2 linked regions of the Homo sapiens genome follow. The protein of the gene in region 1 interacts with the protein of each later gene in a biochemical or structural test. Each region holds a gene or a part of one and is shown in the gene's direction. Other genes may lie near its edges.

Region 1 (7,895 bases):
TTAGAAGGAGCAAGCAGGACAGTTGAAGTTTGCCAAGCTGAAGTAAAAGTCACCTAGAACCAAGTCCTAGGCTGTCACTTTGACGTATCAGTGGCCATATTTATACAGCATTGTTCCTTAAAAGTGAAACAGTCAGGCTCTCTTCTGGACATTTGCCTCTGAGCTGGTGAAGGAATGTTTGCCTAACCTTTAAACTCCTTTGTACTCTGTGCTTATTTGCTCTTCTGTAAAAGGAGGCTCTGTGTAGCTTGACAGAGAGATGAGGAATGAAATGTACTGGGTTTTTGTTTCCCTTTTTTTTTTTTTTTTTTTTTGAGACAGGACCTCGCTCTGTCACCCATGCTGGAGTGCAGTGACACAATCACGGCTCACTGCCACCTCCATCTCCCCATCTCAAGTGATCCTCCCACTTCAGCCTCCTGAGTAGCTGGGACCACAGGTGCATGCCACCACACCTGGCTAATTTTTTTTTTTTTTTTAATTTTTTTTGTAGAGACGAGGTCTCTGTCTGTTGCTCAGTCTCATCCCGAACTCCTGGGCTCAAGTGATCCTCGTGCCTCCACCTCCCAAAATGTTGAGATCACAGGCATGAGCCACTGTGCCCTGCTGAAATGTACTGTTTATGAGCTACCTCTCATTAATGTGTTCATTTAATATGCTTTTTAACATATTAAAACAGTATTTCACCTTCCATAGACTGAGTAGTGTTGAACATTTTTGTTGCTTTGAAGTCACCACATGAATACTGTACTTTATGTAATATCGTGAAACAAATTGAAATCTTAGGTTTTGGATGAAACCCTTAGTCTGAATATGAAACAGTTCTACCAAATGCCATTAGATACACTACATTCTTAAAGCCCTGGCCAGTTAGTATGGCTTGGGACTTCCCAAGGAACTCTGCTTCAGCCATCTGAGACCTGGGAGATTACAAATTGGCTGAAAGTAATTTTGATGCTAAGCAGCGATGTTCAGAAAGGAGCTGAAAAGTATATGTAGTGGGAAAATGCCAGGAATTTCTTTTGAAATTAAGTGCTGGGGCAGTTCGAGAGTGAGGAAAAATCTAATACAAAATCTCTACATATATTAGAGTTTATGCCGTCTACAATGGGAATAACAAATGAAACAGAAGAATACAATTCAAATTGCTGGTTCTATGCTCATTTTTATTAAAATATACTCTTAATGTTTTTATTTTGTGCTTCATTTTGAAAACAGCACAGTATTACAGTATTTGCCATATAATTTTGAGAATTATCAGAATATTTTCCTTAAAAATGTATCATTTTAGGCTGTTCAGGTTGAATTGTGTTCCCCAAAATATCTGTTTAAGTCCTAACCCCTAGTACCTGTGAATGTGACCGCATTTGGAAATAAGGTCTTTGCAGATGTAATCAAGTTAAGATGAGGTCATCGTACTGAATTATGGTGAGCCCTAATTCAGTGACTGGTGTCATTATAAGATGAGGGAAACTTAGACACAAATGCATTCAGAGAGAAAGAGATGTGAGGATGGAGGCCAAGATTGGAGGGATGCATCTACCAGCCAAGGAGTGCCAAGGGGTGGCTGGCAACCACCAGAAGCTAGAGAGAGGCAAGGAGGGATCCTTCCCTTGAGCCTTCAGAGAGACCTTGACCCTGTCAGCACTCTGAATTTGAATGCCCGGCCTCCAGAACTGTGAGACAATAAACTTCTGTTGTTTTAAGCTTCCCAGTTTGTGGTTCTTTGTGATGGCAGCCCTAAGAAACTAAAATATAGGCTTTGCTCATCAAAATACGATTCATGAGAAATTTAGGATGACAAGGCAAGATGAAGTGAAGAAGATATCCTTGGTAAAGGAAATAGCATTTCTTTTCCTTTTTTTTTTTTTTTTTTTTCTTTGAGATAGAGTCTCTCACTGTTGCCCAGGCTGGAGTGCAGTGGCACAATCTCGGCTCACTGCAACCTCCACCTCCCGGGTTCAAGCGATTCTCCTGCCTCAGCCTCCCAAGTAACTGGGACTACAGGCGCCCGCCACCACACCTAGCTAATTTTTTTTTTGTATTTTTAGTAGAGGCGGGGTTTCACTATGTTGGTCAGGCTGGCCTCCAAACTCCTGACCTCATGATCCCGCCCTTCTCAGCCTCCCAGAGTGCTGGGTTTACAGGCGTGAGCCACCGTGCCCGTGTATAAATAGCATTTCAAAGTCACCTGGTTCCAATAAAGTATGAAATAACTTGCTCTTAGGGAAATCACCCCAATTGCCCTTTACCTTAATTTCATGAAAGATGGAACAGGTAAACATGTCAACAAAGGAATCCTGTAACACCAAAACAAAGGACATTTCTTCAAGTTGAATAAATATATGATTATACATGTTTGTCATTTTCTTTTTCTCATTCACTGAAAGCTGGTGAACATTTCAAGTACCAAAGTTTGGGAAACATTGCACCAGTGGCTTATCAAACTAATGTGCACACGAGTCCCCTGGTGTATTAAAATGTAGATCCTGACTTGGAGGGTGAGGGAGATCGGCATCTGACCAGCTCCCGGGCCGTGCAGGTGCTGTTGGTCCAGGGAGGCATGTAATGACTCCATGCTCGAGAACTTTGAAAGCATGGTTTTTTGAAAAAACAAAATATTCTTTCTCATGGTCATTTGAACTGTAAAGTATTCCAATCCATGCCTGTGACTTTACTGCTGATGCTCTGATGACTGTAACATCTATATTTCTAGTCACATCCTTCACTCAAACTACAGATCTTTTTTTCAGCTACCTAACTACACCTGGGTGGCCTACAGGCATCTGAATGCAGTACGTCCCAAACCCAACAAATTATTCACGCCTATGCCCCATCTTCTATTTTTCCTGTGTTTGCCTAGAAGATAAAGTTAGAGTCCATTTTTAATTCTTCCCCATCCTTACCTCCTGGATCTATTGGGTTTCAGAGTCTTTTGAGCTGACTTCTTAACATGGTTTAAGTTACTGTTTACCCTGAAAGATGCAAAGGAAAGTTAAATTAGGGCCAGTTTACATGATTAAAAGGTAAGCAAATTGGGTTTCATTCCAAAGTTCTTCGTCGTAGTGACTTGAGCAGCTGTGCTGACTATCTTACAGCTTGCCACACAGCATCTGCACCACTGTCCCTAGGCAGCTTCCACAGCACCTGGAACCTGGGTTCATGAGGATACAAGAGCCTCCTGGGCCAGGATGGGAGTAGTTTTCCACTTTAGAAGAACTATATATCTATATATAATATAGATATATATAATATATATAGTTTATATATAAATTATTTACAATTTATATATAATTATTTATAATTTATATATAATTATTTATATTTATATAAATTATTATTATATCAGTGGAAAGTAACAAAGAGTTGGCCTGCTAAGTAACTGCCTTCCTCAAATCAGCCTCCTCAGTGTGTGTGATCCCAACGAATGGGTCAGGAAAATCAAAGACCCAATCACGAACCTGGAGCAATTGTTGGGAGTCTGTGCTGCAAATGTTAAATTTACAAGCGTCAGGATTCCGCTGTGCCGACAACGTTTAATTCAGGCTTAGGTAAACCGCGGCTCCTACAGGCACACTGCAGAGTCCCATGATTAGCTTTTGCTGCCTGTTCCACCTCCTTTACTTCTTATTCTTCCCGCTCCTCTACAGGTCGTGTGCTCTTCTGCTGCCCAAACCTTCCACCTCTCCTAACCAGCATTTCATCAAGGTTCCCACTGTTCAATTCCTCCCTGACCATTGTACCAAAACTTTTTGTCCTTTAAAGTACATGTCATCTTATATTCTGTCCTCTGCCAGCTCCTCGTTGCTGTTATCTGATGACCCTGGGGATAGTCCTTTTTCAACAAGGTCATCTATCATATGGTCTTGCTCTTTGCTCTAACTCCTGACTGATCCTAGGTCACTGCATTGTCCTTGCAGAGGTCAATCAACAACTCCGCTCCACAGTTCCTTGACTTTAGTCAAGATGAAGTCAGGTCTCTTCTACCACCTCTTCAGGTACTCACTTCCCTGACTGCTCCCTGGACTTTGTCACCTATCCCATTCTGACCACTCCAACTCCATCCAGTCTTCACTGTAAGAGCTTCAGGCTGCTGGTCCATCTCCTCCCTTTCTTCTTTTTTTCTGAGACAGAGTCTCACTCTGTTGCCCAGTCTGGAGTGCAGTGGCATTATCTCAGCTCACTGCAACCTCCACCTCCTAGGTTCAAGTGATTCTCGTGCCTCAGCCTCCTGAGTCGCTGGGATTACAAGTGTGCGCCACCACGCCTGGCTCATTTTTGTATTTTTAGTAGAGACGGGGTTTCACCATGTTGGCCAGGCTGGTCTCGATCTCCTAACCTCAAGTGATCCACCCACCTTGGCCTCCCAAAATGCTGGGATTACAGGCATGATCCACCATGCCTGGCCCCTTTCTTCTTTTCAGGCAATGAGCTGCTCTCTCTTCAGATAAGACTCATGGCTTTTCCTTCCACCTCGTCCTTCTTTTTCTTTCAACTACACACACTTTGCACAGCTCCAGCCCTGGCTACCCAGCCATCTGCCTTGCCTGCTGTGCAGACAGAGCTCCTTTTAGATTGAGATCATTGCAGATGTATGGTCTCTGCTTCCAGCTGGGTACTCAGTAATACTTAGCAATCATTTTTCTTATCCTGGCCACCTCTCTCTCCACATCAGCTATTTTAAACCTTCACACATCTCCTCAAGCCCATTCTCTCACTCCTAGTAGATGACCACCAGTAGATGTAAGGAAAAGATGCCATGTCTGCAAACTTGCTTACCTCATCCTTAACCCTTTCCATGTTGTCTCAGAAGGTCTCTGTTGTTTAAAACTAACCCCAGCCTTCTACTTTGGACCCCATCTCTAAAGCTTCAAGTCCCCACTTCACCCATCATGTCTGTTCCCCTCCTTTTCCCTTTCCACTGGTAGCTTCCTGACTTTGCGCCTTCCTCCTTTAACCACCTCTGTCTCTCCTTTCCCTCACAGCTAAACTGCTTATAAGAGCTGTCAGTACTTTTTGTCAACAGTTTTACTTCCTTCATTCTTCAACTGACTGTAATTAGGATTTTGCCCCCACCTGAAATGATGTTGGTTTCACCAGAGATGCTGATGATCAGTCAGTGGACACTTGGCAGCCTTTATCTTACTTAGCTTCTCTTTTCATATTCGGCCCTTATAAGAACTGCTTCCCCAAATCTCCACTGTGTTGGCTTACAGGTATTTTCAACTTAATCTCTGAATTGGCAACTTATTATTTTACCTTAAAGCCTATTCCTTCTCAGAACCTTCAGCATCTCTTATCTCAGTTTTCGTAATCACAGACCCTAAGCCTTTAATTCCTAAAGAAGGAAACCTTCTTTAAATGACTCCATTCTACCCAAATTCTAGTGCTATACCACAGCACTTAGCCTTTTCTGCCAGGAAGTAGGACACATGAAATGCATCATACAGTCAGAGGCCATACATCCGTGCTTCCTTTCTGACATTTGGAAATCTTGAAAGCAAGACGATTGCTTGGGGAAAAAACTAGGAAGGCAGAGGTCATCGTGTCTGCTGAATATGGCTTAATTTTCTTGAACACTCAAGGTCATCATTGACTATTGACTGCTGCACAGAATGTGCTGTGCTATTACGGCCACTTTCTAGCTCATCCCCTGCTGTCCCCATCTGCCTTTGTGCCTGTAGTTCACAGTCCTACTTTAGTATATACCTTTGATCTACTGCAGTTTGGGGCATTAGGTAATAGAGGCTGCTTGAAGTGAATGTAAAACAAGTCAGTCAATTCCAAATGAGGTGTCTCCTGTAGAGTTAATCTTTTTTGGCTTTATGTTTGCTATTTCAGTGGCTAGGAGACCTTTTTTTCCTGGTCTTTATTTTGTCTGTGTTCCTGAATGGCTGACATTTGCTCAAGATTGAATTCTAATTATTTGATACCTTTCCTATTATCTCATTTGACTTTTCTCATACGGAAAGTTAAAAGTACATTAGTAGGATGTATCTGTTTTAGATTTTCTGTTTTGGGGTGTGGTCTTTCCCTTCAATCTTAATTCATTCTGGAGAAAACCCTTATCAGGTGAATATAATTATAAACTGAGTGAGAAAAATTTATTGTGAATTTGAGCCCTCAAGTTAACGTTCACTATAATAAACACCGAATCTAATTTAAGTGGGCACAATTATTTAACCAGTTGACACTTAGTTATATAACCTACATAGGCATTTTGCCTTCATTAATTACTCTGTAATATGGCTATTCACCTGTTCCTGTTAAGCCTTTCTGTAGTTGTTAAGCACTATACACTTAACATATAAAACATACACATGGTATGCTATATATATGTCATCCACTGTTAAGCAAGGAAAAAGAAAAAACCACAGATTAAAAATACAAAATAAACCCATAAAACTAGTACAGATTCTGCCATATTCTGATATGGAGTCATGATGAGTGAGATCATCATTGCTGCAAACCAGCAAACATTGAACACTCTGAGAGAACATGATGCATTCCTGCCAGAATGATTTCTGTGAGATCCAGGTAATTCAGCACTAACTGAAACTCCTCATGAAGTTGGATTCTCATCATCTACCAAGGAATAATTCATTATCTCCTTATAGTTTTATCTGCGTTATCTAAATACATGTATCACCACACAGAAAAAGAATTGATGGACAGCTCAGCTGCTTATCTGCTGCTCCTTCCTTGTGGTATTGTTTCCTTCTTGAATCCTTTGCTAGTTCTTCCAGTTTGGGGACTGTGCATAGTAAACGTACAGAGTCATTGTCTGATAATATCACGTATTTTTTTTTCCGTTAAGCTTTCTATTTTGAGATCATTGCAGATTCATATAGTTTTAAGAAAAAATACGGAGTTCTCATGCACCTTTTTCCTAGTTTTCTCCAATGGGAAAAACTTACAAAACTGTTGCAGAATATCACAACTAGGATATTGATGTTGACACAGATACAGGACACTTCCGTCACCACAAGATCTCTCCTGTTGCCCTTTTATAGGCACAGACTTCCTTCCTATCACCACATTTTCCTTAGCCTTTGGCAACCACTATTCTCCATTTCTATGATTTTGTCATTTTAAGAATATTATATAAATGGAATCTTGCAGTTGCAATTTTTTCGGATTGACTTTTTCACTCAGTATAATTCTCTGGAGATACATTCCAGGTTATTGCATGTATTGACAGTTTAATCCTTGTTATTTCCGAGTAGCATTTCTTGTTATGAGTGTACCAAAGATTGTCTAACAATTTACCTGTTAAAGAACATCTGGGTTGTTTCCAATTTTGGGCTATACCAATACAACTGCCATAAACATTCATATACAGGGTTTTATATGACTCAAAGTCTTCATTTCTCCGAGATGAATGTCTAGGAGTGCAGTTTCTGAGTCATATGGTAGTTAAATGTTTAGTTTTATAAGAAACTGCCAACCATACTGTTAACATTTTACTTAATGTTAAAATCTCGAGCTGTAATGGTGAGTTTGTCTGTTTGGCCTTTTAATTCTGTTAGTTTTTGCTTGACATATTTTACAGCTGTTTGGCATATACACGTTCAAGATACCTATATCTTATTGGTGGGTTTACCCTTATGTATTAATAGTTATGTAATGACCCTTTCTGTCTCTGGTTATTTTCTTTGTTCTGAAGTCTATTTTATCTGATATTAATACAGCCAGCCCTGTTTTTCTTTGATTAATGTTTGTATGATACATCCTTTTCCATTCTTTCAGCAGTCCATATCATTATAACTGAAGTGAGTTTCTTGTAGACGGTGTATGATTAGGTCATGCTTTTTAAGTCAGTCTTCCAATCTTTGTCATTTAATTGATGTATTTATTCCATTTACATTATTGTAATTATTGATATTGTATGACTC
Region 2 (7,271 bases), on another chromosome or scaffold:
AGTAGCACTTTTAATTTCCAGCAAGAACTTTTCCTTTGCATTCACAACTTGGCTAACTGTGTGCAAGAGGCCAAGCTTTTGGCCCATCACGGCTTTTGACGTGCCTACCTCATTAAGCTTAATCATTTCTAGCTTTTGATATAAAGAGAGAGACATGCAACTCTTCCTTTTACCTGAACACTCAGAGGCCATTGTACGGTTATTAATTGGCCTAATTTCTTTTCCTTTTTCTTTTCTTTTTTTTGGTTGGAGATGGAGTTTCACTCTATCGCCCAGGCTGGAGTGCAGTGATGCAATCTTAGCTCACTGCAACCTCCGCCTCCCAGGTTCAAGCAATTCTCGTGCCTCAGCCTCCCCAGTAGCTGGTATTACAGGTGCCTGCCACCACACCCAGCTAATTTTGTATTTTTAGTAGAGACAGGGTTTCACCATGTTGGCCTGGAACTCCTGATCGCAAGTGATCTGCCCACCTTAGACTCCCAAAGTGCAGGGATTACAGGTTTGAGCCACGGCCTAATTGGCCTAATTTCAATATTGTGTCTCAGGGCACAGGGAGGCCCGAGGAGAGGGTAAGGGAGAAGGAAACACGTGGTTGGTGGAGCAGTAAGAACACATACAACATTTATCAATTAAGTTTACCATCTTATATGGGTGCAGTTTGTGGTGCCCCAAAACAATTAATAATAGTAACACCAAAGATCACAGATCACAAATCATATAACAGATGTAAGGGTAGTTTAAAAGTTTAGAATATTTTGAGAATTACGAAAATGTGAAACAGAGGCACAAAATAAGCACGTGCTGTTGGGTTGCCAACAGCAACTTTTTCTTTTTTTGAGACGCAGTTTTTTTTGCACTTGTCGCCCAGGCTGGAGTGCAGTGGTTCGATCTCGGCTCACTGCAACCTCTGCCTCCCAGGTTCAAGCGATTCTCCTGCCTCAGCCTCCAGAGTAGCTGGGATTATAGGCTCCCACCACCACGCCTGGCTAATTTTTGTGTTTTTAGTAGAGACGGGGTTTCGCCATGTCGGCCACGCTGGTCACGAACTCCTGATCTCAGGTGATCCACCCACCTGTGCCTCCCAGAGTGCTGGGATTACAGGCGTGAGCCACCGTGCCCGGCTGCCAAAAACTTTAATTTGTTAAAAAAGCAATAAAGCGAAGCACTATAAAATGAGATATATTTCAATATGTAAACGAGGCACAACTACCACTGAAATAACATAGACATTTGCACGTGTAATTCTGAACAAATCAATTTAGCTACGTTCCAGGAAAATTTAGGGTACACTTATGGTAGTCATTACACTGCTCACAAAGATTCCCAGTTGTGGTTTTCCCAGACAGAAATAGGTCTGAACTTCCCAACTCCCTAGAAATTAAACGTGGCCATGTGATTTGCTTTCACCAATGAAATGTGCATAAGTGACCTTTGTCATGCAGGACTGGAGCATGTAATATTTATGCAAAACTCCCAACAGGCTGGGTCCTGAGAGACTACAATGAGTTGGGCAGAGTACTCACCCCATCTACATTGACATGTAGCATGATGAGAAACCAGCTTTTAGGTTAAGCCATTGAGATTTGGGGGTTGTTACTGAAGAATAACCTTGCCTGATAAATGTTGAAACTGTTCCCCCAAAAAAGAGTTAATGTTTTTATACAAAATGGAATTCGGTTCCACGCCCTGATCATTATAAACAAACTTTTCACCTACATAAATGTCCAGTAGCATTGGAAAGTCATGAAGGATTCGGGACAATGCTGTTATTCTAGACTATCTTCATCCCTGTCTATGCATCCAGTAAAGACTAGTAGGGCCGGGCTCAGTGGCTCACGCCTGTAATCTCAACACTTTGAGAGGCCGAGGCGGGGGAATCACGAGGTCGAGAGATCGAGACTATCCTGGCGAACATGGTGAAACCCCGTCTCTACTAAAAGTACAAAAATTAGCCAAGTGTGGCGCCACGCCCCTGCAGTCCCAGCTACTTGGGAGGCTGAGGCAGGAAAATCGCTTGAACCCGGTAGGCAGAGGTTACAGTGAGCCGAGATTGCGCCACTGCACTCCAGCTTGGTGACAGAGCAGGACTTGGCCTCAAAAACAAACAAACAAACAAGACCAGGCCGGGCGTGGTGGCTCACGCCTCTAATCCCAGCACTTTGGGAGGCCGAGGCTGGCGGATCACGAGGTCAGGAGATCAAGACCATCCTGGCTAACACGGTGAAACCCCGTTTCTACTAAAAATACAAAAAAAAAAAAAAATTAGCCGGGCGTGGTGGCGGGCACCTGTAGTCCCAGCTACTCGGGAGGCTGAGGCAGGAGAATGGCGTGAACCCGGGAGGTGGAGCTTGCAGTGAACCGAGATCGCGCCACTGCACTCCAGCCTGGGCGACTGAGCGAGACTCCGTACGAAAACAAACAAACAAAAAAGACTGGTAGTATGCCCTCAGTCATTACACAACTCAAACACCAACTCCACAAATTCCCAAAACACTCCTAGATGAAGTGGTATCCCTTCACTGAGAACTGGCCTTTCAGGGACCAGACATATCATGCAACCTAGTGAAGTGGGCTGGACCAAGACAGGTCCAGGGAGCAGCTGGGCGTCTAAAGGGGCAGCACAGTTTATTCCCAACAGTTTGTTGCCATCTGGGAATATGCCATGAGTTACCAAATATTCCAGTGATTCCAGAGAAAGCTAAAATCCAGATTCTTATGTGAAATCTTTTGATTTCTAAATATTGGCAACAAGTTTTAAGATTTGTAAACATTCTGGGAATCAAAACAGCTCTGCTGGTTTGGTGTGGCTCATGTTGCCTCACTTTGCAAAGTGTTAAGTGCTAGTAAATTTTAGTGTTTTTTCTGAGACAGGGTCTCACTTTGTCGCCCAGCCTGGAGTGCAGTGGCCATGATCTCCGCTCACTGTGGGATCGACCTCCCGGGCTCAAGCGATCCTCCCACTCTCAGCCCCCCAAGGAGCTAGGAGTAGAGCTGTCCCGCCACGACATCTGGCTGGTTTTTTGTTGTTGTTGTTGTTGTTGTTTTGGTATTTTAGTAGAGACGGGGTTTCGTCCTACTAAAGGCCCGCCTGGGCCTTCCGAAGTGCTGGGATTACAGGCGTGAGCCACCGCGCCCGGCCAAAATTTTCCTTTGTACTTACTCAAATTCCTTTCTTTTCCAAGTGAAGAAACAGACTGAGTGTATAGTGACTTACCCAGGCCACACAGTTGGATACCAGAGATAGTAGTCACAATCGCTAACATCTGCCATGTGGTCCTTACTGCAAATCTTATTTAATAATGAGGTCGGTTTTTGTTATCCCACTTAACTAATCAATAGGAGAAGCCACCTCTGATTTCCAGTCCACTATCGTGCACTCTTTCTTGCCAAGCCGTCATAGTCATTAGATTAAAAAAAAAAAAAAATTCCTGCTTTCCTGCCTCGCCTGTGCGTTTCCTTAGTCGCCCTTTCGGGGCTTGTTCTAATGAGTGCTACAGAAAAATGACGAAGTGGAAAATATAGACCATGAAATGAAAATTTAAAAGAGGAAATGGTGTCACAAAGACAACGACGGCCAGGGAACCCCGTGAAGCGCCGGGCAGGGTGCACAACTGTCCTCGGAGAAAGTTCAAGAGGAACTTCCCCGCGAACAGGTCCTGCCGGCGGCCGGGAATACGCACACTTTTTATGTTATGACTTGGACTTTCCCGAACCTTTCGAAACAGAGGGAAGGCGAGGCGGTGAAGAGGGAGAAAAATCTCCCCCACCTAAGGCAAAGGCGATGCCCGCCCGCCCCCACCCCGCGCCCGCCCGCCCGCTGGGTCACATGACACGGCCAAGATGGCCGACCGGGAAGGCGGCTGCGCTGCTGGGCGGGGGCGGGAGCTGGAGCCGGAGCTGGAGCCGGGGCCGGGGCCCGGGTCAGCGCTTGAGCCGGGAGAAGAGTTTGAGATCGTGGACCGAAGCCAGCTGCCCGGCCCAGGCGACCTGCGGAGCGCAACGAGGCCGCGGGCGGCCGAGGGCTGGTCGGCGCCCATCCTGACCCTGGCACGCAGGGCCACCGGGAACCTGTCGGCGAGCTGCGGGAGCGCGCTGCGCGCGGCCGCGGGGCTGGGCGGCGGGGACAGCGGGGACGGCACGGCGCGCGCAGGTAGGCTCGGGCCGGGTCTGTCCCGCGGCGGACTCGCGTGTCCCCGCTGGCCGCCGGCGCGGGCGCGGTGGGGGCCGGGCTGGGAGGGCACTGGCCGTTCCGGGAGGTTACGCGAGCTGTTGGCGGGCGGGCGGCGCCTGGCTGCGCCTGGGTCTTTACTCCGGCGGCCCAGCCGAGACCGCCCCCCGCAGCCCCGCGTGCCTGAGCGCGCTCCCGCACCCGCGCCTCTATGCTCTCCCACTAACTAGGTGAAGGACGTGTGCGCGTCCGGGCTTCGGAACTCTGTAGTAACTCCACACACGAAACGGAGCCAGCACTGTTCTGCTTTTCAGCCGTTCAGTGCGGGAGTGGAGCGCCGGCGGGTGTTGGGAGGGCGTGGGCCCTGCGCGCAGCGGACCAGCGGCGCCTCCGCTCACCTCTGCCTGTGAGATGGGGATTTTAAAGTCACCCGATGATCTCTTAAAGACCTTTTCAGCCCTTGTAATGAACAGAGTGCCAGCATATCAGTGATAGTAAGAGTTAAGTAACTTAGCCCTCTAACGCCAGACATCCAGAGCTGTGCTATCCAATACAACAGCACGCATATGTTTTTGTGTGTGTGTTTTTGTTTTTATTTATTTTTATTTTTTTGAGACCGGGTCTTGCTCTGTCGCCCAGGCTGGAGTGCAGTGGTGCGATCTCGGCTCACTGCACCCTCTGCCTCCCGGGTTCAAGCGATCCTCCCTCCCGCCTCAGCCTCCCGAGTAGCTGGGATTACAGGTGCCCACCACCACGCTCGGCTAAGTTCCCCGCCCCCACCCCCCTCCCATATTTTTAGTAGAAACGGGGTTTCACCATCTTGGCCAGGCTGGTCTTGAACTCCTGACCTTGTGATACACCTGCCTCGGCCTCGTAAAGTACTGGGACTACAGGCTTGAGCCACCGCGCCCGGCCGGATTCCTCAATTTCTAACTGAATCAATTGAAATTCAGTACTTTTAAATTGAATTAAAAATTGAGTTCCTCGGCCGGGAGCGGTGGCTCACGCCTGTAATCCCAGCACTTTGGGAGGCCGAAGCGGGTGGATCACGAGGTCAAGAGATCGAGACCATCCTGGCCAACATGGTGAAACCCCGTCTCTACTAAAAATACAAAAAATTAGCTGGGTGTGTTGGCATGCACCTGTAGTCCCAGCTACTCAGGAGGCTGAGGCAGGAGAATCGCTTGAACCTGGGAGGCAGAGGTTGCAGTGAGCCGAGATCGCGCCACTGCACTCCAGCCTGGGTGACAGAGCGAGACTCTGTCTCAAAAAAAAAAAAAAAAAAAAAAACTTGTTCCTCGATTACAGCGGCCACATTTTAAATGCTCAGTAGCCTGTGTGTGGCCAGTGGCTACTGTATGAGATAGCACATAATAGAACATTGCCAACTTCATAGAAAATGCTGGGACAGAGCTGAGGAAAGGTTGTGGTGCCTTCCAAGGAGCATCATAGCACACACTCGAGGCTTCCTGATTCCTCCCCATCCACTGGTACCTTTGCTGTAGATGCACTGACCCCAGGTAGTGAATTGTGAGATTTTCAGTGGTCAAGAATAATTACTGAGTAAAGTTGAAAGGCTGACTCGTTTTGAGATCCTGGCAGTGGAAAATAGCATTAGAGGATGATGAGAGCCTGGGCAGGCCGGGAATCTACTGCCCTCTAGCTTGACACCTTTTCCCGAGACTTTTCCACACATCAGTGGATGCTGAGTTGCATACTCATTGACAGTCAGTACTGAAAGTCAAGGCATGGCGTCTCCTGGAGGCCTCTTAGATATTTCGTGGCAGGAGTAAGCAAATAATAAAAGTTCTTCCCTGCTAGAATTTCTTTCCTTTAATGCAGAATCAAGGAAAAAATTAAAAAGATAAAATGAAATGTGTCAGTACCTGGCACAGAATAATAAGTGTTTGCTGAACAAATGCATATTTGAAAAATACCTGTGTTCCATCTATGGAAGTGATAGAAACAATAGCCAACACTTATATTGTCCTTCAAAGGTGCCAGGCATTAGTCTTAAACCTGTACAAGTATTCATTCATTCCTCACAACAACCCTATGTGATAGCAGGACTAGCTTCATGGGTGGACAGTCAATGCAGGCTTTGATCACTCTGGTGGAAAGGGCCAGGCACTCAGAAGTATCCCATGCTTGAAATTCTTAATTTTATCTTTGAATTTGTGTTTTTTAAGTGAAGTCCAATGGGACAGGTTCTCAGTTGCCCTGGCCCACTCGAGCTGCCCTGGGGCTTCTCCCTACCCTCCCTGATCCCACTCTTGCCCAGGCAGCGTTGGGATTGCACCCTCCGAATCTCAGGGCAGGGTGGCTGGTACCACAGCACATTAGGCAGGCAAGTGGGCAGGGGCCTCTCACCTGTCCCATCCCTGCAGGGAAGTTGCAATCCATTAGGGCTGTAGTAAGGGGGAGTCTGACTTCTGTGCTCTGCTCCAGGCCGGGAATTTTGCACTGGGCCTTGTAAATCATGTAGATGGCACAGGGTGATGAGTACCATTATTATCCCTATTTTATAAAGAGAGTATTAAAGAGAAGTAACTTCACCAACTGCAAAATGTCTATATATATATCCCATATGGATTTAAAAAACTAGGCCGGGCATGGTGGCTCACACCTGTAATCCCAGCATTTTGGGAGGCCGAGGCAGGCAGATCACCTGAGGTCAGGAGTTCGAGACCAACCTGGCCAACATGGTGAAACCCTATCTCTACTAAAAAAAAAAGTACAAAAATTAGCCGGGCTTGGTGGTACGCACCTGTAATCCCAGCTACTCAGGAGGCTGAGGCAGGAGAATTGCTTGAACATAAGAGGCGGAGTTTGCAGTGAGCCGAGACCATTCCACTGCAGTCCAGCCTGGGCAACAGAACGAGACTATCTCAAAAAATAATAATTAACTCAATTTAAGGAAAGTATTAATAACTACCACTCAATCTAGCAAAATGGTGACCATGGCTTACAAAGAGATGAAATTTGGGGAACTGCTGGGTAGAGCCATGAGGCTGGTCCCAAAGGTCACCGGGATTTGAAGCCATCAGGTAGGACAGGAGCAGAGGTGGGAAAGGAAATGGGCCAAGGGCGGCTCGCTCTGCAG

What was found. Proteins that work in one complex are often made in the same cells at the same time.
Region 2: the proteins of RAB4A (region 1) and RUFY1 form a complex in vitro, tested with the Homo sapiens proteins (2 studies listed by BioGRID).

What each region holds. Positions count from the first base shown.
Region 1 is NC_000001.11:229,273,757-229,281,651, forward strand, and holds part of RAB4A (ras-related protein Rab-4A), read left to right. Parts: intron 1-7,895. UniProt on the Homo sapiens protein: The small GTPases Rab are key regulators of intracellular membrane trafficking, from the formation of transport vesicles to their fusion with membranes.
Region 2 is NC_000005.10:179,546,730-179,554,000, forward strand, and holds the start of RUFY1 (RUN and FYVE domain-containing protein 1), read left to right. Parts: upstream 1-3,824; 5' UTR 3,825-3,840; coding exon 3,841-4,150; intron 4,151-7,271. UniProt on the Homo sapiens protein: Activating adapter involved in cargo sorting from early/recycling endosomes. Regulates retrieval of proteins from endosomes to the trans-Golgi network through interaction with the dynein-dynactin complex.